Linked DNA regions of Homo sapiens: region 2 is linked to region 1. The links come from fine-mapping of genetic effects on gene expression. A gene starts in region 1. The other region holds a variant in brackets. All regions are shown on one strand. Distances are from middle to middle. Region 1 holds the start of ISCU (iron-sulfur cluster assembly enzyme). Region 2 overlaps CMKLR1 (chemerin chemokine-like receptor 1).

Region 1 (8,549 bases):
ATGGAAAGATGGGCAGTTTTAGCAACACTTTATCTTGTGAGGGCCAGCCAATAAAAAAGGGAGGCCAAAGAGGCTCTCAGGGTTGGTGGGGATGATTTCTGTTTAATAACTCAAACGGCTAAGGGTCTTCTCAGGACTCCCACTTTATCAAAGCTGCAGCTGGGATTCTCAAGCATGAAGTATACACAGCTGCACTGCCTGGCTTGGGTAAGCAAAGACAGCCCAGACACTTCTCTAAGTCAGGAGTGGAACCTGTGAGAAGTCTCTTAGGGATCTGCTTGTGGCCTGTAACAGGAATCTCTTCCTTAAAAGGTAGTGATTTCCTATGCTGGTTTTGTGAATATCAGCTTCTCCGATGTCCTCATACCAAATGTTAGCCTAAATCCTTTTGACTAGAAGTGCCGAATGGCATCAGAGAGGTTGGGAAGATTTCAGGTAAGTAGCACAGTGGCAGTGGCACAGCCGAGTCAGGCCGAATGCTCTCTTTGGTGTCCCCTTTGCCTATAGGAGCATCTCCTCCAGATCAACTAAAGAGGATGCCTGGGGTCTGGTTGACAGCCCTGGGGGATAATGTGAGGCAGGCAGATCCTTGCCCATGTAGAACAGTGCCCCACTGCCTTACAGAAAACCAGATTTCCCAACAGCCAGACTCTTTGACTATGTCTATCATTCAGTTTCCCAATTCTGCTAACCCTTCTTGGTTGATTCAGGTTCTGCTCCTGAAACTCAGATGGGAGATCTCAAGGTTAAAGAAATGTCCTCTCTCCCATTTTCTGATCACAATTCACAGTCCCCTAAGGGCCAGGTTCTGGGAGCAAAAGTGCCTTGTCTCATTTCTCCCTTCACCTGAGGACAGTTCCTGACAAATCACTTCAGAGCTACCTCCTGCCACAGCAGGTTAGGTCTGAGCTTCCTGGCCCACAGGGGCTTGCCAGCCAGAAGGCCGTGAGCCACAGGAAGCAGGTGGCACGTGGCCTGGCAAACTGCTCTGCTGTGGAGCTGGCCAGCTTCCAAGCATGCTCCTCTGTGACTCAGCTCCCTGAACCTGGTCCCTTGGGGCAGCAAAGATGAGTGCCTTGCTGGTTGGCTTTTCTGAGAGGTTTTGACAGCAACTGGATTTTAGAAAGTCCAGCTCTTCACTGTGTTTGGGACCTTTGACCTCTGCAGCTACCAGGGAAAGACACTTGGGAGACAAAGGGATGAAAAAGAAGTTCTAGCTCTTTATTATCTCTGCCTTTAGAGGGCTTGCGATCAGCCACCTGGATCACTGTTCTGATTTCGTTGTTCACTTTGCCCCCACCCTTGCTGTCTTTTTGATTATTTAATCCCTCTTTTAACACAGGCTAGTTTATTTCACCAATTCTTGAAAGCCACCTAGAACCCTTCCTGAAACATGAGAGGAAATAAACAAGAAAATAACTACCTTATAACAACTCTCTGACTTGAGAAATTATAAGAGCACTGGTAACCTTAGAGAAAGCCAAAGATTTCTTTTAAATTCTATTTTGTTAGAGGGACAGGTGAGGATCTTTTTTATATGTAATTAACACCCAAACAAACAAAAAAATAAAAATGATCAACAAGAAAAAAACCCAAACAACACCTAGTAGAATGATCCATAATTCCCAATTTGAAGAAATGATAATATAATCAACATCTGCATAGGAGAAATTTTAAAAATTTAGAATATTAAAAAAAAGTCATGGTTACTTGTTTTTGACCCATTAGATTTGTGAGCCACCTTACCGTCTTTCCTTTCACCCATTCAGTGGCTAATGAGCTGGAGGCAATTGCGGAACCACAGCCAAATGTTTTAAACCTAGCATCCACAATCTTCCCCTTTTCATCCACTTGAATCTAGAAAAGAGACAAGAGTTAAGTGGTGAGTCCTGGGACCACCCTCTGGAACCTGGCACTCACGAAGGTTCACCAGGGCCTTCCCCAAGGGCTTTGGGCTTGCTTTCCACACTAAGTGATGGCATTAATTACTGACTTTGCCTTGTTTCAAAGAGCTCAGTGATGAAAAGTGAAATGCAGGGACAACTATCCAGGCCCAACTGACAAAGATCAGCTGAAAAATATGTCCCTCCACTCCAATATTCTTTTGTTTTGTGACTCTGGCCTGCATTTTGGCTATGAACTTCTATTTGTGGAAGTCTGCTCACAGCTGCTGGGGCAATCTGGCCTCTTTAAACACTGACAGAGTCCACAATAAAGGTCTCTGGTTAATACTTTTTTCTTGGGCAGCAGATTACACTTAGTGGTTTCCTCCTGTTTTGTTTCTGTATTCCAAGATAGGTATGAAGACCTCTGGCAAGCTGCCCACTCACCATGAAGCAGCAGATTGGTGCTACAACTACAGTTTACCCAAAGCACTAGACACTATTTTCATGTTTCCCCCAATCTGGGGACAGGTTTAATTTACTGTGTTTCTTGTTTCATTGGGGACTGCTAGCTCACTGGGATTTTCCTTTGATCAGTAAAATTCACAAAACTCTTTAGTTGGCTGAAGTCAGAATTTAAACTGATACAGTGAGTACAAAAATGAGATTACTTTTCTATTTTGGAAAAAGTTGGCATAGTACACTAGCCTAGCAGGAGAGCTACGATTGAGGCCCTGCTCCAGTCATATCTAACATGGACTCATCCCATCTCACAGGAATGGAGACCAAGTGAAATGCTTGGAGATCTCACAGGAATAAAGATGGAGACCAAGTGAAATGCGCAAGTGCTTTGTAAACTTAAAGGGATTATTGTTATCACTATTAAAAAAGACTAGCCATACCTGTAATTTCATTACGTCACCACATGCTGGAGCCCCCACCAGTCCAGTTCCAACATTTTTAGATGTCTTGTCAAGGGACCCCACGTTTCTAGGATTTTCATAATGATCAACAACCTAAAATGAGAGGGTTAAGATAAATCATGTTCACTCTCTATTGGTACTGGTCTCTGGTTTGATGGTAAGCTCCTCGGTCAGCATCTTGAACCTGGCAGGCAATCACTAAATACCAAATTTCACCTGAGTAGAAAGGTCTACACTCATGTCAATGAGAACCATTTGTGACCCCCAATTCCTTTTGTGTCTCCTCTACAATACTTCACAGATTTGAGATACCTAGAAGAAAAAAAAATCAGTGAAATCATGTCTTAGTTCCATAGGATTTTTACAAAAATACTTGACTTTCACCCACCTACATCACCAGACTTGGGCTCAAACAGCAGTTTTGTTATTTTCAAATAAAATCCATCCTCAAAGGATGATTACTATTTAAAAATTCTAAAAATAACCATGGCCCAGGGAGGGAAAGCTTTCTTAGAAGCCTTAAGGTGACTGTTACACAGGGAACAATGCTATGGAATGTGTACGTTTATGTGTCTTTTAAAATAAAAACAGTGCCATTACCGTATTTCACAGCCTGTCATCACCCTGGTGCAGCAGCGCACCCTGGCTGCTGAAAGGCTGCTAGTCCAAGTTTCTTCAGGGTGTACCCTCAACAAAACACACCCCCGGGAGGGGGAGGAGTGAAGAAGCCCTTGGAGAAAGGGCAGAAGCCAGATCACAATAAACATCCATTCGAACTGGCACACAGAAGGCCTTAATAACCTTGAGGTTTGGTTACTGGTTAGTAGTAAGCACGCCGATCTTCCAGTCCCCTTTTCCCCCCATCTGACTAAGGATTTTGACTCCAAGTAAAAGGGACCTCAGGATAGTATCTAATGTAGGGGCCTTTTGTGCCACGTTGATTTATGGCATTCTTTAGTTGTTTCTCGAGTGGGAGTCTCACGTCTGGGGGACTTTGTGCCACCAGACAGCAAGGGGCTGCAGACTATGAATCTATCCCTCCTTCCCCGCCAAAAAACCCCCCAAACAAAACAAAAACATTACGCATGTTGGTTACAAGCCTGACTCCCCTATGCACTCCTAAAGCAGTAACAGAAACGGTCTCCTCGTGCTGGGGCCTATGTGCCAGGAACCATGCCAGGACTCCACGCACAGTATCCTTTGTAAGGGACAGCTGAGAGCCCCCCATTTACACCTGGGGAAACAGGTTCAGAGAGGCGCAGTGACTAGCCCAAGGTCATCTGGCCAGGGCAGCGGAGTGGCTGAAGCCGGAGCCCGCTCCGGGGGTGTGTCTGTCCCTGGACTCAGAAAGACAAGTCCCAACAGGACCCTGCCTCCTGGGCTGTTGGCGAATTTAAAATTGGGACGCACGAAGTCGCGGCCAGCGGCGGGGCCCCCTGGAAGTCGCCGCCCGATGAGCGGTAACTGTTGTTTATCAGTTGCAGTGAGCCTCACTGCGCAGCAAGGGAAAGCGAGTCAGGGCAAAGACGTGGGAGGGGACAGCTCCCAGTCCTAGCTGCGCAGAACCCCGCGGCCGCCCCTCCAGCCCAGGCCTCCGCTGAGTCGGCATTCCGCGCGTCCCTCTTTTGTCCCTACCTTCTTGTGATAGAGTCGGGCCGGGGCCGACAGCTCCCGGGCGGGCAGGCGGGGGCTCCGCAGCAGCAGAGCCGATGCCGCCCGCCTCAGACGGAAAGCCCCAGCCGCCGCCATCTTGCCGGCTTGCGCCTGCGCCAGTCCAGAGCGACGCCGAGGGGCGGGGCGCGTCTGCGAGTCGGCTCCGAGCTGGGAGCGCGCCTCTCTGACGTCACCGAAGCTTTGCGCCTGCGCTTTACCGCTCCGTGCACGCGTCCGCCTTCTGGCCCCGCCTTGACCACGCCTCTCGGGGGCGGGCGGGGTCGGGAGCGGGAAGGTCTGAAGTCGCTGGAGGGCTTGTCCTGGGTGCTGGATTCTGGTTGAGACAGGACCTCAGGGCTTCTGCAGTGTGGGGCTCAAGTTCGCTTTCACAAATCCCGCTGCGGGAATGCGGCGCAGAGGAGCACCGAGTCCACTTTTCCTAACCCTATTTTGCAGCTAAGGAAGCCGAGATTCAGGGCAGTTTAGTAAGTCCGTCCAAGGTCGCTAAGGACTTATGTTCAATTAGAATTCGAACTTGGGTAATCCTGGGTTAGAATCCTGGTTCGGTTCCTTCCTGGCTGTGTGTCCCTAGACGAATGGTACCGGCTCGCTGAGTCTGAATCTTCCCTTTTGTATTAATTCGAGGACAATTGCTTCATCATGAAGCCAGCATCTGTGTCGAGTACCTACTATGTGTCAAGGCGCTCTACTAGACCCGGGGATCCAACGGAAAGCAAAACAGACATAATTCCTGCCCATTAAGCCTGCTAATGAGGGAGCAAGGTAGAGATAGAGACACACACCAATACTTTCCTACCTCAAAAATGGGAAGCTTAAGAAGGAAACGAATACCATGTCCTGATTGAAAAAAAATGAATATGTCTATTTTTCTCTCTAAAACAACAGCAAACTCAATTTATATGTCAGTGCCTAGCAATTAAGAATTTCTAAAGAAATGCGTATTAATGTAATTTACTGTTGGTTTGCAGTATGTGATCTTATAAAACCGGAAAACTCACGTGTATTTAACGTCTACTAGGTACCAGACGTTTACATAAAGGGGAGGAATCTGGGAAATGGATTTTTCTCTTGAATGGTGAAATCGATCCTTCCCCGAGGACCTGCAGTTTTCTTTGCGTTTGAGGCGCAGTTGCTGGGGAGAGTAAACCCAAGCGCCAGGTCACACTAGGCGATAAGTAAGGCATTTAATCGAAGAATCACTTTGACCTTCTCAAGATGGCGCCAAATTCTTCACTACAGACATCACTCTCGCTCCATGACTTCCTCTATGGCTTCCACTTCCTGCCCAAAGACCCAACTTCTGTCCGAAGTTGTGACGGAACGCATGCCATTATAATGAGTTTTTATATCTGGTGGGAGCTTTTACAGGGTATAAAATAATGTGAATTTAGTGTATGTGGAGATTTTCCTGTTATCTAAGTTCCCAGTTTCTCTTTCAATGGCAAGAAAACGGGTTTTTGATAAGGCGCGCGCCGCGGGCAGCTTCTGCCTCAGCGGGTCTTCGGCGGCCGCGGGAAGACCCGAGAGTCATTAGAAGCGCAAGATGGCGACTGCGGCCGAAACCTCGGCTTCAGAACCCGAGGCTGAGTCCAAGGCTGGGCCCAAGGCTGACGGAGAGGAGGATGAGGTTAAGGCGGCTAGGACAAGGAGGAAGGTGTTATCGCGGGCTGTGGCCGCTGCGACATACAAGACCATGGGGCCAGCGTGGGATCAGCAGGAGGAAGGCGTGAGCGAGAGCGATGGGGATGAGTACGCCATGGCTTCCTCCGCGGAGAGCTCCCCCGGGGAGTACGAGTGGGAATATGACGAAGAGGAGGAGAAAAACCAGCTGGAGATTGAGAGACTGGAGGAGCAGGTGGGCCCGGGGGTGGGCAGCGGGCATCTTCCAGTCTTTCAGGTCCTCGGGTCCCCATGTCCTGGCCCGCCTCCCTAGTCCTCGGCGGCGATAAAGCCGCCAAGGCTGCAAACCCGCTTTTCGTGACAGTAGCTCCTGTCGGATTTGAGTGCTTACTGCCTGCCCATTGCCTTGCAAACGTTATCTCATTGAATCCTCGCCACGACCCTGTGAAGGAAGCCCTGTTATCTATCCCCATTTTACTGGAGGAAACTGAGGCTCGTGGAGGAAAGTTTCTTGCTCAAGATAACACTTCCTGCAAGTCAGGCCTTGTACTTTGATCCCATTCCAGAACTCCCACTCTTAACCACACGTCCAACAGTAGAAATAAACTCATTCGCAAGAGAGTGTTATTTTGTTATGTAGGAATGACGGCGATGATGAAACTTGTGGTAAGAAAAATATTGACCGCGATGGTGATAATAGAAATGGAAAGGTTTCTGGTTCTGGAGGTTAAGGCCTCAGTTCTAGCTGTTCAACTCTTGTATGTGCTTGTAAGAATTTCTTAATTTCTCTCACCCTCTCGACTTCCTTATCTGCAGATTGGGAGCAACAATTTCTGCATAATATAATTGTTGTAACAGTAACTATAGCTCAGTGCCTAGCATCTAGTCATAACATGGTCTCTCACTTGTAACCTTATGAGGTGGTGATATCTACTGTATAATCCAGGATCTCAGCAGGAAATAGGTGGCACATTTAAATTAGGATGATCTGAGAGAAACTCAATAAAGGTGTGGGTAGGGAAATCGGGAGTGAAGGTTTAGTATCCCATAGCTGGTAACTCCAGAACCTGGTGTCCATCTTTGGGCCGGAAGGGGTGAAGGGTGTGATCTGAATTGTGTGGAGAGGGCACCTGAGACCTGCTGATAACTTTGTTCAAGGGAAGCAGCCCCAGTTTCCTGTCAAGGATTGAGGTGGGGGAAGAAATACCCTGACCTCTCTTTCTTCCTCCCACCAAACTTCTGCTGGTGCCTCCTGCTGGGCAGACCCATCTGGAAGCTGGAGAGCCAGGAAACCTGTGCATGAGGTCTATACTCGGGGACACAGGGCAGGGAGGAGAGGGTAGGGTGTTTTTTGGAGGGGGCAAACAGAAGAGATGGAGCACATTCTCTCTTTTTTTTTTTTTTTTTTTTTTTGAGACAGAGTCTCGCCCTGTCACCCAGACTGGAGTGCAATGGCACCATCTCGTGTCACTGCAACCTCTGCCGCCCTGGTTCAAGCGATTCTCCTGCCTCAGCCTCCCCAGTAGCTGGGATCCAGGCACGCACCATTGCGCCCGGCTGATTTCTGTATTTTTAGTAGAGACGGGGTTTCACCATGTTGGTCAGGCTGCTCTTGAATTCCTGACCTCAGGTGATCCACCCACCTTGGCCTCCCGTAGTGCTGAGATTACAGGTGTGAGCCGCTACGCCCGGCCCGCATTCTCTTTTTACAGATGAAGAAACAGAGGTTCAGAACAAATGATGAAATGATTTCCTTTAAGTTATTCATAGTGGGATTTACACTTAAAATGTGGACTAGATGCCACACTGGATGTGAAATCACTCAGTGAATGTGAAGTTGCTAATCTAGTTTACTCATTAAACCTTACTGAGTGTCAGTTTCCTTATAATACTCTCTCTGGCACTGATATTTTTGTTATGAGATAGTGATGTCATCCATTGGTATAGCTTGTCCCACCCATTACATCTGATTGTCAGAGGAACCTGTTGGGGTTGGCAGGTGGTTAGCATTTCTACTTTTTTTTTTTTTTTTTTTTTTCTTTTTTGAGACGGAGTCTTGCTCTGTGGCCCAGGCTGGAGTGCAGTGGCACGATCTCGGCTCACTGCAAGCTCCGCCTCCCGGGTTCATGCCATTCTCCTGCCTCAGCCCCCCGAGTAGCTGGGACTACAGGCGCCCGCCACCAAGTCCGGCTAATTTTTACTATTTTTAGTAGAGATGGGGTTTCACCGTTTTAGCCAGGATGGTCTCGATCTCCTGACCTCGTGATCCGCCCGCCTCGGCCTCCCAAAGTGCTGGGATTACAGGCGTGAGCCACCGCGCCTGCCCTCTACTTTTTATAAATAAGTGTGCTGAAGCTAATTTAGTCTTACTCATTCAGCAAACACAGCGTGACACTGGGTACCAGATTGACTGTGTCCCTGCCCTTGTTGATGTCATTTCTTCAGACTG
Region 2 (16,121 bases), 270 kb after region 1:
TCCAGGCTGGAGTGCAATGGCCTGATCTTGGCTCACTGCAACCTCCGCTCCTGGGTTCAAGCAATTCCCCTGCCTCAGCCTCCTGAGTAGCTGGGATTACAGGCACGTGTTGCCATGCCTGGCTAATTTTTGTATTTTTAGTAGAGACCGGGTTTCACCATGTTGCCCAGGCTGGTCTCAAACTCCTGGCCTCAAGTAATCCTCCCACCTCAGCCACCTGAAGTGCTGGGATTACAGGCATGAGCCACCGTGCCTGGCCTCTGTGTCCCTTTCTGACCTGCCCTTGATCCCACAGCTGGAGAGACAAGTGGCCAGGAACTCACTGGTCCTCTGGCTTCCTAGCCTCATCCCACCTTCCCAGGCAAAGACCATTTTAGAAGGGAGTTAAGAGTGGAAGCCTGAGAAATAATAACAATGCCAATAACAACAATATAGTGCTTACCCCATAAGGGGACCTGTTCCAAGCACTTAATCCTCACAACCATCTTCTTATGAGGCAGGAGCTATTATTATCAAGCCCATTTTACAGATAAGACAACTGAGTTGCAAAGAAGGTAACTGACTTGCCCAAGGTCACAGGGGAGTTCCTGCAGATCCAGGATGTGGATGCAGGCAGTCTGGCTGGGCCCAAGAGTCTGCTCTTCCGCTTGGTTTGGTAGCAGAAATGTGCTCAGGACAGGAGGGATGTGTGTTAGGACAGAGCAGAGGCTCAAAGCAAACCTGTGACTTGTGCCTCCCTTACGCTTCCAGAGAGAGAGGCGTCTTGGGGTGGGGGCGATGCACCAACAGGGGACACGAATCCACTCAATTCCTGGAAGGATGAGGAGTTAGGGGTGGAAGGAGGGACATGCCCAGAGGATGTCAGCATCATTCTGTGCCAGCCCAGCCTGGCCCCAGCTCTAAGATGAAAAAACATGGCCTCTGACCCCAAGCTGCTCCCAGCCCAGCCAGAGAGCCCGACATGATGTCATCTGCTTCAGGCTGCATCTCTGCAGATGCTGTGCGAAGCACTCAGTCCTGAGTCCCAGATCCTCCTCGACCTCCTCTCGGGACTCACACACCCAGCCCACTGTCAATGAGGGAGGGGAAGGTCAGAGATGGGGAGATGCCCGGCGTGCCCTTCCTCCTTTCTCTGCCTTCCACCTTCTTAACTCATACTTGTCCTTAAAACTCAACTCAGATGCCATTGGCCCCAGGAAGCTTCAGACTCCCAGGCTGGGTAACAGCCCCTCCTCTGGGCTTCTTGGGGCATTCTAGTCTTGCCCCAGCCTCAACACTGTCTCTTTGTCTCATACCTGTGAGCTCCTTTTGGGAAGGGACCCTAGTAAGGCCATGTCCTCATCCCTGGTGCCTGCACCGTTTGGCACAGGGAATGTCAACTTGGTCATTTCTTCCAAAAGGAAGGTTGGTGATGGTCATCAATCTGAGCAGATCATGGTCTCAGGGGCAGTGTGGAGTGACAGTTAAGAGCTCAGGCTTTGCAGATGTGGTTCAAATCCCAGCTCTTCCAGCCCCTGCCTGCATGCTTGGGCATGGGTCCTGATCTCTCTGAGCCCTGCTGTAGCCCCTTATGGGGTTAAAGTGAGACCATCTGGACTGAGGGCTTAACATGGTCCCTGGCATACACAAGAGCTCAATGTGCATTCCCCACTACTGTCATGCACACCTGTCAGGTTACCTCCAGTCATGGGAGGCCAGCTCCAGTGTCCCCATCTTCTCTCTGCATTCCAGTGCCATAGAAAACCCTTGGAGACCCCTTGGTGGGCACTTCTGAAATATTGTCCCAGCATAGAGTGGGATAACACCCAAGCTTTGATTGTGAGCCCTCTGAGTGCAAAGCCCTCAATGGAATTTTCCAAGTGGCTTTTATTTAATAAAAGCAAAAGATGACTTTTATGTAATAAAATATAACCTTAAGCTGGGAAGGATCAGTAATGAATTTATGTGCAGGAAGGTTGGAGTTATTTATAATAAAGCATTGATTAGCAGCCTTGTGAAGCTGAAATATCTGGTTTGGAGCCCATTTGACAAGATGGGGAGATCATGAGCCGCAGAAAAAAGTGCATGGGCTCTGGGGTATCAGAGCCTTGGTTTTAAATCCTGCTTATCAGCTGTGCACCTCTAGGCAATAATGCAATCACTAGTATTTATTGAGGGCTTACTATGTGCCAATACCAAGCTAAATGCTCCACATTTCTGATGCTTCTAGTTCTTATATACACTCTGTGAGGTGAGAAATCCCATTTATTGGTAAGAAAACTGAGATTCAGGGAAGAGAAATCACTTGCCCAAAGCCACACAGCTCATAAGTGTCCGGGGTTAGGTATGAACCCTGCATGTGATCACTGCCTCCAAGATCTTGCAAACTTGCAAACTCCTCAGAATATGTTTGTTCTTCCATAGACTGGAAAAATACTCAGCAAGATTGTTATGGGGCTTGTTTAAAGTGCCACTTAAGTTGTCTGCACAGCGGAGGCTCAGTGGATATATTTGTGTCTGTCTTCACACCAGACTGCTGTGGCTTCAGAGCCTGCATCTCATTCATGGTTCCCATAGGGCCCAGAGAATATCCAGCAAGAATGATGCTTCTTTCTCTGAGCCTCAGTCTCTCTATTTCTTAACACAAAAGGAATAACACCTGCCTGGAAAAGTCCCAAGGAAGACTAAATAACAAGAAAGAATAAAAGTTCTTGGCACATAGCAGGTACTCTGTGTGGGTCTTCTCCTGTTTTCTCTGTGCTCACACTTCCTAAAACAGTATTTTGTGGGTCCTGCCCTGGTAGTGGAGTTGAGTCCCGACCTGGTAGTGGATTGAGCCATCCATGTACCTCCTCTGTGTCTTCCTTTACTCATGCCCGACTCCAGCTGTCAGCTAGGGATGTGCTGGGAGAGGGGAGTGGTTAGAATGAAGAGTCCAGCACTTGACCTGGGAAGAGTCAGTTGACCTAGGTTCAAGGGGCTCCATCCCTTCCTGGCTGCATAACCTTGGCTGAATAACAGCCTTTCTGAACTTCTGCTTCCTTCTCTGTAAAATGGGAATAAGAACAACAGATCTTATTTCTGGCTGGGTCCACTCAACCCTCTGGTTCTTAGACCTGGATCCAATTGCTGCTTTTTTTTTTTTTTTTTTCCCTACAGGTGTTTCTAGCTGTGTACAGGGACTGATTGGCTGAGGACTCACATTGGAGAGCTGCAGACAACATAACGGTGAATGGTGAGGAAGTCTTGTGGTCTGAACTCCAAAGGGCACCAGTGACCACTGACAGATTGGGTGCACAGGGGGATCACAACAAGGCTGTCCACTTGGTTTTAGAAGCATGTTGGAATCAAGTTCACAGCACCATGTACCTCTTCTTCATTGCACTTAGCATTATTGCAATGTTCCCATTATTTGAGGGACTTTTTGATGAACAATTGTCTCCCCCACTAGGCTCTAGAGGAAGACAGGGCCCCAAGCAGACAGAAAACATGGTTGTCAAAAGGATAGACTCTGAAGCTTGGATTCAAATCACAGGTCTGCCTTTTCCTAGCTGTAGGACTTCAGGCAAATGACATAAGCTCTCTGTGACTCAGTTTCCTCATTTGTAAGTTGAGGCTCATAACCTACCTACCTCATTGAGTTACTGTGAAGATTAAGAGAGTGTAGAATGCAATAGTGCCTGGCATGTAGGAGGTACCAGAGAGGCATTTGTTCAATAAATAAAATAGCAAAGAAGGAAATGGTTAAATCACAAAACTGGACTTGCTCAGAGTCAGGGGGAACATTGTTGGTCTTGCTGGTATTGGTCAACCTCTTAAAGCCAACTCTAGGGTTCCTCTAATGGTCCCTGTCTTCTCTTGCAGAGAATGGAGGATGAAGATTACAACACTTCCATCAGTTACGGTGATGAATACCCTGATTATTTAGACTCCATTGTGGTTTTGGAGGACTTATCCCCCTTGGAAGCCAGGGTGACCAGGATCTTCCTGGTGGTGGTCTACAGCATCGTCTGCTTCCTCGGGATTCTGGGCAATGGTCTGGTGATCATCATTGCCACCTTCAAGATGAAGAAGACAGTGAACATGGTCTGGTTCCTCAACCTGGCAGTGGCAGATTTCCTGTTCAACGTCTTCCTCCCAATCCATATCACCTATGCCGCCATGGACTACCACTGGGTTTTCGGGACAGCCATGTGCAAGATCAGCAACTTCCTTCTCATCCACAACATGTTCACCAGCGTCTTCCTGCTGACCATCATCAGCTCTGACCGCTGCATCTCTGTGCTCCTCCCTGTCTGGTCCCAGAACCACCGCAGCGTTCGCCTGGCTTACATGGCCTGCATGGTCATCTGGGTCCTGGCTTTCTTCTTGAGTTCCCCATCTCTCGTCTTCCGGGACACAGCCAACCTGCATGGGAAAATATCCTGCTTCAACAACTTCAGCCTGTCCACACCTGGGTCTTCCTCGTGGCCCACTCACTCCCAAATGGACCCTGTGGGGTATAGCCGGCACATGGTGGTGACTGTCACCCGCTTCCTCTGTGGCTTCCTGGTCCCAGTCCTCATCATCACAGCTTGCTACCTCACCATCGTGTGCAAACTGCAGCGCAACCGCCTGGCCAAGACCAAGAAGCCCTTCAAGATTATTGTGACCATCATCATTACCTTCTTCCTCTGCTGGTGCCCCTACCACACACTCAACCTCCTAGAGCTCCACCACACTGCCATGCCTGGCTCTGTCTTCAGCCTGGGTTTGCCCCTGGCCACTGCCCTTGCCATTGCCAACAGCTGCATGAACCCCATTCTGTATGTTTTCATGGGTCAGGACTTCAAGAAGTTCAAGGTGGCCCTCTTCTCTCGCCTGGTCAATGCTCTAAGTGAAGATACAGGCCACTCTTCCTACCCCAGCCATAGAAGCTTTACCAAGATGTCATCAATGAATGAGAGGACTTCTATGAATGAGAGGGAGACCGGCATGCTTTGATCCTCACTGTGGAACCCCTCAATGGACTCTCTCAACCCAGGGACACCCAAGGATATGTCTTCTGAAGATCAAGGCAAGAACCTCTTTAGCATCCACCAATTTTCACTGCATTTTGCATGGGATGAACAGTGTTTTATGCTGGGAATCTAGGGCCTGGAACCCCTTTCTTCTAGTGGACAGAACATGCTGTGTTCCATACAGCCTTGGACTAGCAATTTATGCTTCTTGGGAGGCCAGCCTTGACTGACTCAAAGCAAAAAAGGAAGAATTCTCAAAAGCATTGCCATGAACTGGGATTGGCATAGGGCGGTGGGATTAAGCTGCCTATTGTGTGTGCCCCAGAAATGACACTCTCCAAGGTCCATTCCTGGTGTGAGCAGTGAGGGGGTCAGAGCAAACCCAGTGTGATGCAGATCACACTTGGCCCTTGTATATATATTATCAGTAGCTGGCCAGAAAACCCTACCTTCAAGTCACTGCTCTGTGTTAAAGTATGTGGAAATGCATAGGTGATCTGGGAGAGGAAGGTGACATATCAGCCCATGAACTCCATAGGCCATGAATTTGGCTTTCGGATCAGCTAGGAAGACAGAGAACTGGTCCTGAGAGGTCCTGTGGGCTCTTTGCAAGGGCAAGACAAGTGAGGGATGCAACGAGGACTTGAGATTTGGCAAAGAAATGAGAAAGGAGAAAAGAACCTTTAAAGGATGCAGGCATGGAGCAGCTCACCCTAGAACATCGCAGGCTGATGGTGCTTTAGGCTGGAGCTATTTGGGGCGTCAGGGTGGTGCCAGCCCCTGATCTCACCTTGCCCCTCTTACCTGGGGGTGGGGTTGTGGCAGGCATCTTCACCAGCAGCCCTCACCCCATCACAGGGATTTTTTTCTGCCTTTCCTAATCCACTCAGCTCTGGCTGGAGGTGCTTAGAATAAAACACTGGTGGTGGGGCTTCTCATTCTGGTTAATTTCCTCAACGCCTTTGGAGACAGGTCCAAAATGCAGCTTTGGGAAGCAACTCCGGAGAGTCCCCTGGGAAGAAGAGTATGTCCGAGGACTCAGTCACTTGAGACAGAGTCTGGAGCTGGACTCCTTGAACTGTGTTTCTGAGCTGCAGACACCAAATACCTCCTGGATACAGGTGCCTGGCATGGCTTTTCTCATCTAATACTGACACGTCCCTGTGGCCACAGAGTGTCATAGCCCCATTTACAAATGACATAGCTGAGGCCCAGATGGGGAAAGTAACTTGCCCAGCATCACACAGCTAATCAGTGGCAGAGTTAAGATCTGAACCTGGCTCCGTCTGGCTCCAGAAACTCTGTTCTTCTATTTGGAATTTATCTGTGGAGATTATTCTAGTATATTGATAGCCTACATTTATTTAGCACTTTTTATATTATGCACTTTACATATGTTTTCTCATTTAATCATTACAGCAACCCTGAGTTAGGTATGGTTATAACTTCCCTTTTACATAGGAGGAATCTGAGGCTTAGAGAGGTTAAGTAACTTGCCCAAAGGTACCCAGCTAGTCTCTGCCGGAGCTTGGATTTGAACTTCAGTTTGCCTGGCTCAAATGAGGCTGCAGAGTTGGGAAGGACTTAAAAAGTTTGGAGATTTTTGCCATAAATATTGATTTTTCTGCAAATGAGGATGAACATCTTAATGGCCTTTAAGAAACTTTGCAAATAGTTTTCAAAAATGATGCAACATGGCAGAGAAAATGCACTTGGCTTCCAGCTCCCTCAACAGCCATTAACAGCCTCCTACCGTGGCTCCCACCTCCTATGTCTCCAGAGATCAAGGCAATGGGGAGGGAAAGCTGGCAGGAGGCAGTCCCTTGTGGGCCTGAGGCCCTTTGGCTCCTAAGTGTCCACATTCTGTTCTCTTCCAAGTCCCTTCATTGTTAAGCTGATTCTCCAACAAGATGCAATGAACAGATGCAATGTCTACCCCGCGCTGGGCGAGTTCCCGAGGCCATGGGCTGTTTGGAATCACACTTCATTAAGAGACAAACTGTTCCTTCCCTTATTGTGCCTTAATGCTTATGACAAGGCAGCTCTGAATTGATCCCAAGCTGGAGCCTCTGAATGCTTTAAAGAGTTTGAATATAGACGGTTTGAGAGCAAAAAGGGAGCTTTAAATATTGCTCAGTGGCCCCCATCTCCCCTCTTCCCACATTTACTGAGGCACGAGATGGGATGGGACCTGTCCCGGGTCACAGCAGCAGTCGTCAGCGCCTTGGCCCTCCTGGCTTGTAGGATGCTGCTTTTCCTGGGCTTCTGGCAGTCCAGGCCAGGATGGGGGAGCCAGGAATTCATGTTGTCATTGGAAAAGCTGATAAACAGGAGCACAATTCAAACCGGCTGTTTTCCTCCTTAGAGTCTGGCCTCCCTCTTTCTGGCTGCTCTGTGGGTCTTCCTGTTCTGACTTAGGTTCCTGTCAAGTACTTAAATGCAGCCTTAACATCCCATACAGTCTTGTCCCCACAGCTTCATGTGAACATCTCCATGGGTCATGCATATATCGTCCCTGCAGTGTGCAAAGTGTGCTCACCTGCACTGCTGCACAGGCAACCAACATACTTAGTGCCCAGAGCCTTCTCTCTGGGCCCAGGACTCAGTGATGGGGCCTTACTTAGCCCTGCCTCCTGGGTGGGGTGGGGGAGCTGAGGGATCGTGAGGACAAGAGGTAGAGGGAAAAGAAAAGAAGATGGTGTTTGAGGATAGGGGAGGGACAGGAGAGGGGACAGAAAGGTCCCAGAGCATGATGATGAAGGAAAGGGATCTGGCATTCATGAAGCACCTACGATGGTTCAGGCACAAACACTGAAACCTCAAA[T/C]TGGCCCTGGCAGAAGGGGACCATCATAGCAAGGTGGGGGGGGGGTGCAGAAAGTGAGTTTCTGTTTCAAGAACAGACTTCACTAGTTCAGAGTTGCACAGCTAGTGAGGTATGGAGCTGGGCTTTGAATCAGGTCAGCTGCCTGAATGCCCAACTTCTTCAGCCCTTGGAAGGAGAGGGTGGGGAGAAGAAGAAGGAAAAGACAAGGAAGAAAGAAAGAAGAGAGAAGGGGAGAGGAATGGAAGTCCAAAGAGTGGGAGGAATTTGATTTCAGAACCATCTCCAGCTGACCCTTGAGCCAGCAAGGACAGGGAGAAGGGAAGAGCAAGAACACGAAGGGCCTCAAGCACCGGGATGCCTTTGCCAGCCTTAGATAATTCCCAGAGCGCACAGAGCCCTGCAGGTTCCTGGGTCCTTCTCCAGAGAAGAGGCACAGAGATTCTGGCAGCAAGGTTCAGAAGGGGTGAGGAAACTGGGCACTGACAAAGGGAGGGGATTGGCTCAAATTCGACCCCAGAGTCAGCTCTGGTGGGGTTGGGAGCCTGGATGGGTGGGAGAAGATAGAATCCAATCGTGAAAACCATAAGGGACCTTCAAACTCATCTTGCCCAGATGTCTCCCATTTCACAGATGAGGGAACTGAGGTTTTGAGAGCTTCCCCTGAGGACTCTGCAAAACGAGGTGGTGTCTGGTTTGGATGAAAGTGGTCGGTGATTCCTCAACTCCTGCCCTGCCTCCCTCTCTCGTTCCTCCCTAACATGTTATGCTCTTGTTGGGGCTGGGATGCCCTAGGCCCAAGGTTACCAAATCCTGGGTTTGGAAAATTGCTGCTGGGGGTGGTATCTAGGACCAGAGAGGAATCTACTATTTCTACTGTGAAATAATTCAGCAGGGGGTCTTCTTACTTCTTCCCTTTGAGGACAAAGTTTCTCTCGAATAAAGAGACTGAAGCAAGAGTGTGTGGCTCAGTTCTGGGGGTTCCTGCCATCACCTCCCTTTTGCCTTCCTCACTTACTTCACAGAACAGCAGCTGAGGCTCAGAGAGGTGAGGCGGCCAGTGCAAAGTCACAGAGCTATGTTGTGGGCAGCAGGAGAAGCCCTGAAGTCCCCAACCTGCCATTCTCAAACCTTCGAGCTCCAAGAAATTTGCATTTTGAAAAAAATTCTTTTCACTTATTTTGCTTTTCTAGCAACTGAGGATGTGAAAGAGGTAGTTACTCACCCAAGATAATATAGTAAACCCTAGCAGATAAGGGACATAAAGCCAGGCCTCCTCATGGTCAGGTCTATACTCTTTGGCACTGCATCAGGTGGCCCAAGGACAGATGCTCCTGTGACACATTCATCCATTCACCTTTTCACCAACCCATTCACCCTAACATCCACCCACCTATCCACCCACCCATTCACTCCAAGATCTACCCATCCACCCATTCACCCCAAGATTCACCCACCCATCCACCCACCCATTCACCCACTCATTCACCCCAAGATCCACCCACCTATCCAACCATCTATTCACCCCAATATCCACTCACACATCCACCATCCATTCACTTTAATATCCACCCACACATCCACCCACCCATTCACCCACTCATTCACCGCAAGATCCATTCACCCATCCACCCACCCATTATCCCAAGATGAGCTCACCCATCCACCCCAACATCCACTCATCCACCCACTTACCCACTGACTCCGACATCCACTCACCCAGCCATTCATCTCAACATTCGCCTAGCCATCCATCCACTCACCCATTCACTTACATAACCATCTATCTATCCACCCATTCATCCATTCCATTAAAATGTATTTAACAGCTACTCTTTTGCTAATTCTGTGGTAGGCACTATATACAGAGAGATGATCAAGACGTACACAGCCTCTGTCCTCCTGAGCTCATTCATTGACTTATGAGAGAGACAGCCAATAATCAAAATTATACACGTCCCCCAATGGGAAACAACCCCAGGAAATGTTTTCTCTGTTGCCCAGGCTGGAATGCTATGGCACGATCACTTTAGCCTTGACCTCCCTGGGCTCAGGTGATCCTCCCATCTCAGCCTCCGGAGTAGCTGGAACCTCAAGCACATGCCATCACACCCAGCTAATTTTTGTATTTTTTATTTTATTTTATTTTTTGTAGAGACAGGGTTTCTCCATGTTGACCAGGCTGGTCTTGAATTCCTGGGCTCAAGTGATCCTCCTGCCTCAGACGTCCATAGTGCTGGGATTACAGGCGTGAGCCATGGTGCCAGGCCTGCACACACATTATAGAGGGATCCGATCCTGTCCAAAGACTAAGGAAACTTCCTTGGGGAGGGGACACTTGAGCTGACATGTGGAAGATGGGTGGGCACGGATGTGGTAAGGAGGTGCAGGAGGAGGGTGCTCCAGGTGGAGGGGACAGCAGGGGCAGTGGCATTGATGCAAGAGGGAGCAATGCTCACAGTGACGGGAAGTGGTGGGGGTGGGGGGCTGGCTGCAAGGAGGGTGTAGGATGAGTGAGACCAGGTGGGGGTGGAGTGGAAGGGCCAGGCAGTGGGGGAGACCTTCACCCTGAGATGCGGCAGCCATGTGCAGGGGAGTGCCATGCTCAGATCTGCATGCTGGAACAATGCCCCTAGCTGCTCTGGGGAGGACAGGTTGGAGAGGGGCAGAGTGGGAAGCCCGGAGGCTACTGCAGCCTCAGATGAGCCATGGTGGAATCTGGACTGGGGAAACAGAAGCGATGCTGGAGAGAAATGGACTATTGGAAAGATATTTAAAAGCTACCCAAGCTTTCTCAGGGGAGTGGTTAGTGGGAAACCAACCCAGGGCCCATTTCTGCTACACAGAGGCCTCGGTGCATTGCTTTATTGTCTGAAATTAATTGTAAATATTATTCAAATGTACCACCCAATGCACAATTATATTTCTCAGGGGAGCCCTCTGAACACATAATAAAGCCCTATAAATAATACATATATTAACCTAAGAGGAACAGAGGCATGTTAATGCTGCAATTGCAGGTTGTGCTGTGGGGACTTTATACAGATGAGATGCCAAGCACTTGGACTTGGGGTTTGACCTTGGGGGTCACCTGAGTTCTGTCCTGGGGAATCTTCCAGAAGTCTCTCCCCCTGGGATATGGGGATACCCCCAGACAAGTCAGGCAGCTACTGCTCTAGGTATCTAGTCAATAGACAGGTGGGGGCAAGATGAGAGTTGGTGAGGGAGGAAGAAGCACAGGTCTATAAAACACTTACCTTGTGCTCAAAGATGCAGAAACAGCAACAGCAGTAATAATAGCAAATACTAATTCAGCCTTGTCTAAGTTTTGGGCAAGCTCTTCAGTTTCATTGTCTCATTGAGTCCTTGCAACAAGGATTTCACAGTAGGGGTATTGCTATCTCCATACACAAGTGAAGAGATTGAGGTTCAGAAAGGTGAAGTGACTTTGCCCGATGCCACACAGCTGGTAAGTGACAGAGCTGGGATTCAAACCCCAGTATGTTTATCTTGAAAGCTCCTGCTGTTTTCCCCAGAAATGTGCAAATGCAAAATGTCCTCTGTAGAGACCCTTCCCTGGAGAGAAGAGGACAAGAACATATTCTCTTTCCCATGTCAAATTTTGAAGATGTGGGAGTCGGGGAGTCTGAGGAATTGCTTTTTCCTTGAGAGGAGGAAATTGCATTTGAATGGGCTTGTCACTTTCTCACAACCCTGAGAATCTTAGGGTTTTTGCGTTTGGAAAGGACTACTTCCTCAAGTTTGTCCCTTCCTGTTCCCCCATTTCACAGATGGTGAAACTGAGACCTCTTTGCAAATAAGATGGAGACCACCTGCCTCACTGACTGCTGGGAGATGAGAAGTGTGTGAAAATGCTCACCTGAGTCACTCTTAAAACACCATCACCCCAGAGACCTGAGCATTCACCAAGCCACCCTGCTTCACTTCTTAGTTTATTGACAAGCACTTTGGTGCTAATCTGCTGTAAAGAATTTCTGCCCAGGGTCTGGGCTCCCCTGAGGAGTTTCCAGCAGAATCCTGGCTGAAGGGGAGGCGGGAGATCTTGGCAAAAACTGCTGTAGGGCAGACATGCTTTGTTTGGGGGCATAAATGTTACTCTTAAAGATTGTCCTGAATATGAGTGAGGGATGCTCCCCATCTTGACCTAGATAGTGGTTACACGGGGTAAGGGGTGGGGAATGGGGGTTCATCTGTAAAAACCCAATTATCTGTACATTGAAGACGAACGCACTTCACTATAGTAAGTTATGCCTCAGCAAAAGTCTTTGTAAAAATAAAATAATTCATGTTGTCTGCAGAAATGAGTTCCCACCTCCACTGGTACCCAGGACAGGTAGTGGCAGGACAGGACCAGGTCTGACGGTTTGTCCTTGATTCAAGAGAGCATTTTAGAGGGCAGTGGCTCCTGCAGCATCCATCCAAAGAGGTAGAGTCTCAGGAAGGACTAAGCCCTCCTGGGGGCCTCCCCAGCCTCACCACCTGACTCAAAGGGACTTTGATGTTTATGACACCGGGTCAGGTAGGCTCAGGAATCAGACTGCGAGGGCTCGAATCCAAGCTCTGCTATTTACGTCAGCTAAGGGCAGGGTTAGAGTTAGGCTCTGTGACCTTGGGCAAGCTATTCAATGCCTCCGAAGCCTCAGTTTTCTCCTCTGTATGACAAAGGGCATGATAAAGGTTTGCAGCTGTGAGGATTCAGTGAGATTGCTGCACTTTAGCGTTTAGCAGGTGCCAGGCTCTTTCATCTGAATATGCATCGGCTTTCTTGCTGGCCTCCCCACTTCTGTCTTTGCTCCCTCAACCCACACTGTAGGAAGCAGCCAGAGTGAGCTTTTATCACAGAATACAGTAATCCAGAGCCCTTACTATGGCATCAAAACCCCTATGTGATCGGCTACTGCCTCCTTCTCTAAGTTCATCTCATGCTGCTTTCCAGCTAGGTGATCCTTTCTGCCTCTCAAGCAAAATGAAACAAACAGATCAACAGCAACAATACAGCCAAGATTGGTCCCACCTCAGGCCCTTGCACTTGCTATTCCTGCTGTTTCTGGGCCCACTTGCCTCTTCCCTTTGCATGACTGATTCGTCCGCCTCCTTCTGGTCTCAGTCCAAATGCCATCTCCTCAGACAGGCCATGCTAAGGTAGCCTCCATCCCTACTCGCTGCCTATCAGATCCCTATTTTGTATTAGTGTTTTCTTTATACTAGTTACTGCCATCTGAAATCATATTATTATGTGTGTATTTAGTGGCCTTAAGTCTGGCCCCTACTTGGATCCAGCAAGATGGCAGGGACTTTGGCCACCTTATTGTATCCCTAGCAGTGCTTAGCCCAGAAAAGCTGCTCATAACTTCTGGTTGAATGAATGAAGACATTATCATAAGCTGACATTATTTTTGCCATCATCATCATCGAGTTTCATGACAATCACTTTTATAATACACCGTTTCCAAAGTATTTTCACATTTTTTTCCTATCTTAATGAAACCTGGGGAGGGTGGGATTTTTCCTCATTTCACCAACATGGAAACTGAGGTCGCAGGTCACTTAGTTTAGAAGTGGAGGAGACACAGTTCTTTACTTGTGCCATTAAGAGTAATCACAGGCTGGGCGCGGTGGCTCAGGCCTGCAATCCCCATACTTCGGGAGGCTGAGACGGGCAGATCGCTTGAGGCCAGGAGTTTGAGGGCAGCCTTGTCAACATGGAGAAACTCCGTCTCTATTAAAAATACAAAAAAATTTAGCTGAGCATGGTGGCACACGCCTGTAATCCCAGCTACTCGGGAGGCTGAGACACAAGAGTCGCTTGAACTTGGGAGGCGTAGGTCGTAGTGAGCCAAGATCACACTAGTGCACTCCAGCCTGGGCAGCAGAGTGAGACCCTGTCTCAGAAAAAAAAAAAAAAGAGTAATCACAGACAAAGGAGGTTTCTATCAAGTGCTTCCACCTCCCTTGGCCTTTTCTTTTCCCTGTTGTCTGATTTATTACAGCCAGAAAATAAAGGAACCAGATGCCTCCCTCCTCCTCATATTGTTTTGTAGTTCTTTTCCGGACCAGGTTTCTGTTAAGGGTTTGGCTGGTACCACTGTGACCACAGACTTCCTGTGTTTATCCCTTCACTTAGAAATCATAGTCAACTGGGCATTAAAGTCTGTGCTGGACACTGGATGACGCTAAGACACCAACACACAGCCAAATACCTGGGGGTCCCGTGGGGCCCAGAAGCCTAACACAGAAAGAGGCAGATCCAGGGTATCTTTTCCCTGGTTTCCACTATGCAGATGTTTTCCACCTTCAGAGCAACATCAAGATGAGTGAACAAGTCTCCAGTTTGCCTCCAGATGTTGGGACTGCGGTTGTGGAGCAAATTCCATACAGGGAGGTGGAATGGAGGCTCTCAGCCTTGCCTGCTGGCAGATGATAGCCTGGTGGATGGCAGGCAGTTTACAATACCTAGCCCACTGCCTGGGCACCAGTGCCTTACTGGGAAGGATTGACTTGTGATGGGATTTTAGGGATGGTGACAGGCAGCCAGAGGGAACTCCACATTGGTCAACCTATTTCATCCTTATCAGAAGCTTAAATGGTAAAACCACCTTGTCTTCAGAAACGAAGAAATGCTGGGTCAGCTGAAATTCGAGCCCTCACTGTCAGAGAAGCTAAGCAGAAACATCTTAGAGGTAGGGACAGGGGACAAATTTCAGACAAAGATCATGGTCAGGGCAAGCCTGCCAAGAAGGCTGCACATGAAGCCTCAGATCAGAAACCTGATGGAGTGGATGTATCCAGGCACATTCTACTACAACTTTGAAAACAGACCCATCCTCTCAGGTTGGAACACCACCTGGCTGTGCTACAAAATGAAAACAAAGAAGGACCCCTCAAAGCCCCCTTTGGACGCAAGGATCTTTGGAGGCCAGGTCTATTCCAAGCCTGAACACCACCCAGAGATGAGATTCGTAGATTGGTTCTGCAACTCGAGGCTGCATCGTGACCAGGACTACCTGGTCATCTGGTACATCTCCTGGAGTCCCTGCTCAGAGTATGCAGGGAACGTGGCAGAGTTCCTGGCCAAGGATGGCAAGGTCACCCTGACCATCTTCGTTGCCCACCTCTACTACTTCTGGGAAGCAGATTACCAAGAGGAGCTTCACAGATGGTGTCAGAAAAAACAGTCCACATGCCAGCATGAAGATCATGAACTATGATGAATTTCAACACTGTTGGGACAAATTTGTGTACAACCAAAGAATGCTATTTGATCCTTGGAAGCAACTGAATACAAATTATGCATTACTGCACAGCATGCTGGGGGAGATTCTCAGACACATTCACTTACAATTTTACCAATGATCCTTCAGTCTCTGGGCAGCACCAGACCTACCTGTGCTGCAAGGTGGAGTGCCAAAACAATGATGCCTGGGTCCCTCTGGACCAGCAACAAGGGCATCCTACCCAGCCAGGCTTTGAATAATCTCAGTTGCTATTAAGATTTCCATGCAGAGCAGTGCTTCCTGTACCTGATTTCCTTTTGGAAGCTGGACCGGGCTCAGTGCTACAGGGTCACCTGGTTCATCTCCTGGAGTCCCTGCTTCAGCTGTGCCCAGCAAGTGGCTACATTTCATTGGGAGAACAGATGTGTGAGCCTGCACATCTTCGCTGCATGCATCTATAATTATCTCCCAGGATATGAGGGGCTGTGCATGCTGCAGAGGGCTGGGACCCAAATCTCCATCATGACCTCCGGAAGTTTAGGCACTGCTGGGTCACCTTTGTGGACCACCAGGGATGTCCCTTCCAGCCCTGGGATGGACTAGATGAGCACAGTCAAGCCCTAAGTGGGAGGCTGCAGGCCATTCTCCAGAATCAGGAAAACCATAGGATGGACCTCAGACTCTAAAGAAGGCAGAAAACCTGTGTTGAGCAGCAGAATGGAAATCTTTCAAGAAATGCAAACAGGCCATTCACCACTATCTCTGGCTGAGCAGTGGACACTAGCAAAGCAATGAGCTCCTGACAAGTAGTTTTTTTTTTTTTTTTTTTTTTGAGACAGAGTCTCGCACTATTGTCTGGGCTGGAGTGCAGTGGCACAATCTTGGCTCACTGCAACCTCCGCCTCCCAGGTTCAAGTGACTCTCCTGCCTCAGCCTCCTGAGTAGCTGGGATTACAGGCGCCCGCCACCAAGCCTGGCTAATTTTTTTTTGTATTTTTAGTAGAGATGGGGTTTCACTATGTTGGCCAGGCCGGTCTCGAACACTTGACCTCATGATCCACCCACCTTGGCCTCCCAAAGTGCTGG

The links. PIP is the estimated chance that this variant, and not a neighbour inherited with it, causes the effect.
Region 2: its variant is the best candidate, but not a certain one, in a credible set for the expression of ISCU in Th1 cells (Schmiedel 2018, PIP 0.73).

The regions. Positions count from the first base shown.
Region 1 is chr12:108,558,629-108,567,177 of GRCh38, reverse strand. ISCU (iron-sulfur cluster assembly enzyme) reads right to left here and starts at 4,582. Exons shown (of 5, transcript NM_213595.4): 1 at 4,442-4,582; 2 at 2,786-2,899; 3 at 1,747-1,857. The coding sequence starts at 4,555. It overlaps SART3 (spliceosome associated factor 3, U4/U6 recycling protein), which reads left to right and starts at 6,005. Exons shown (of 19, transcript NM_014706.4): 1 at 6,005-6,335. The coding sequence starts at 6,024. RefSeq lists enhancers at 662-711, 4,093-4,162, 4,693-4,772, 4,843-4,902, 5,757-5,856 and 1 more and silencers at 3,353-3,402, 4,363-4,482.
Region 2 is chr12:108,280,682-108,296,802 of GRCh38, reverse strand. CMKLR1 (chemerin chemokine-like receptor 1) reads left to right here. Exons shown (of 4, transcript NM_001142343.2): 3 at 3,139-3,214; 4 at 3,844-8,757. The coding sequence starts at 3,212. The coding sequence ends at 4,962. It also overlaps the pseudogene LOC196469. Among named protein-coding and RNA genes, the nearest start is that of CMKLR1, 51 kb to the left of the region's middle. The variant T/C (reference allele first, on the strand shown) is at 7,804.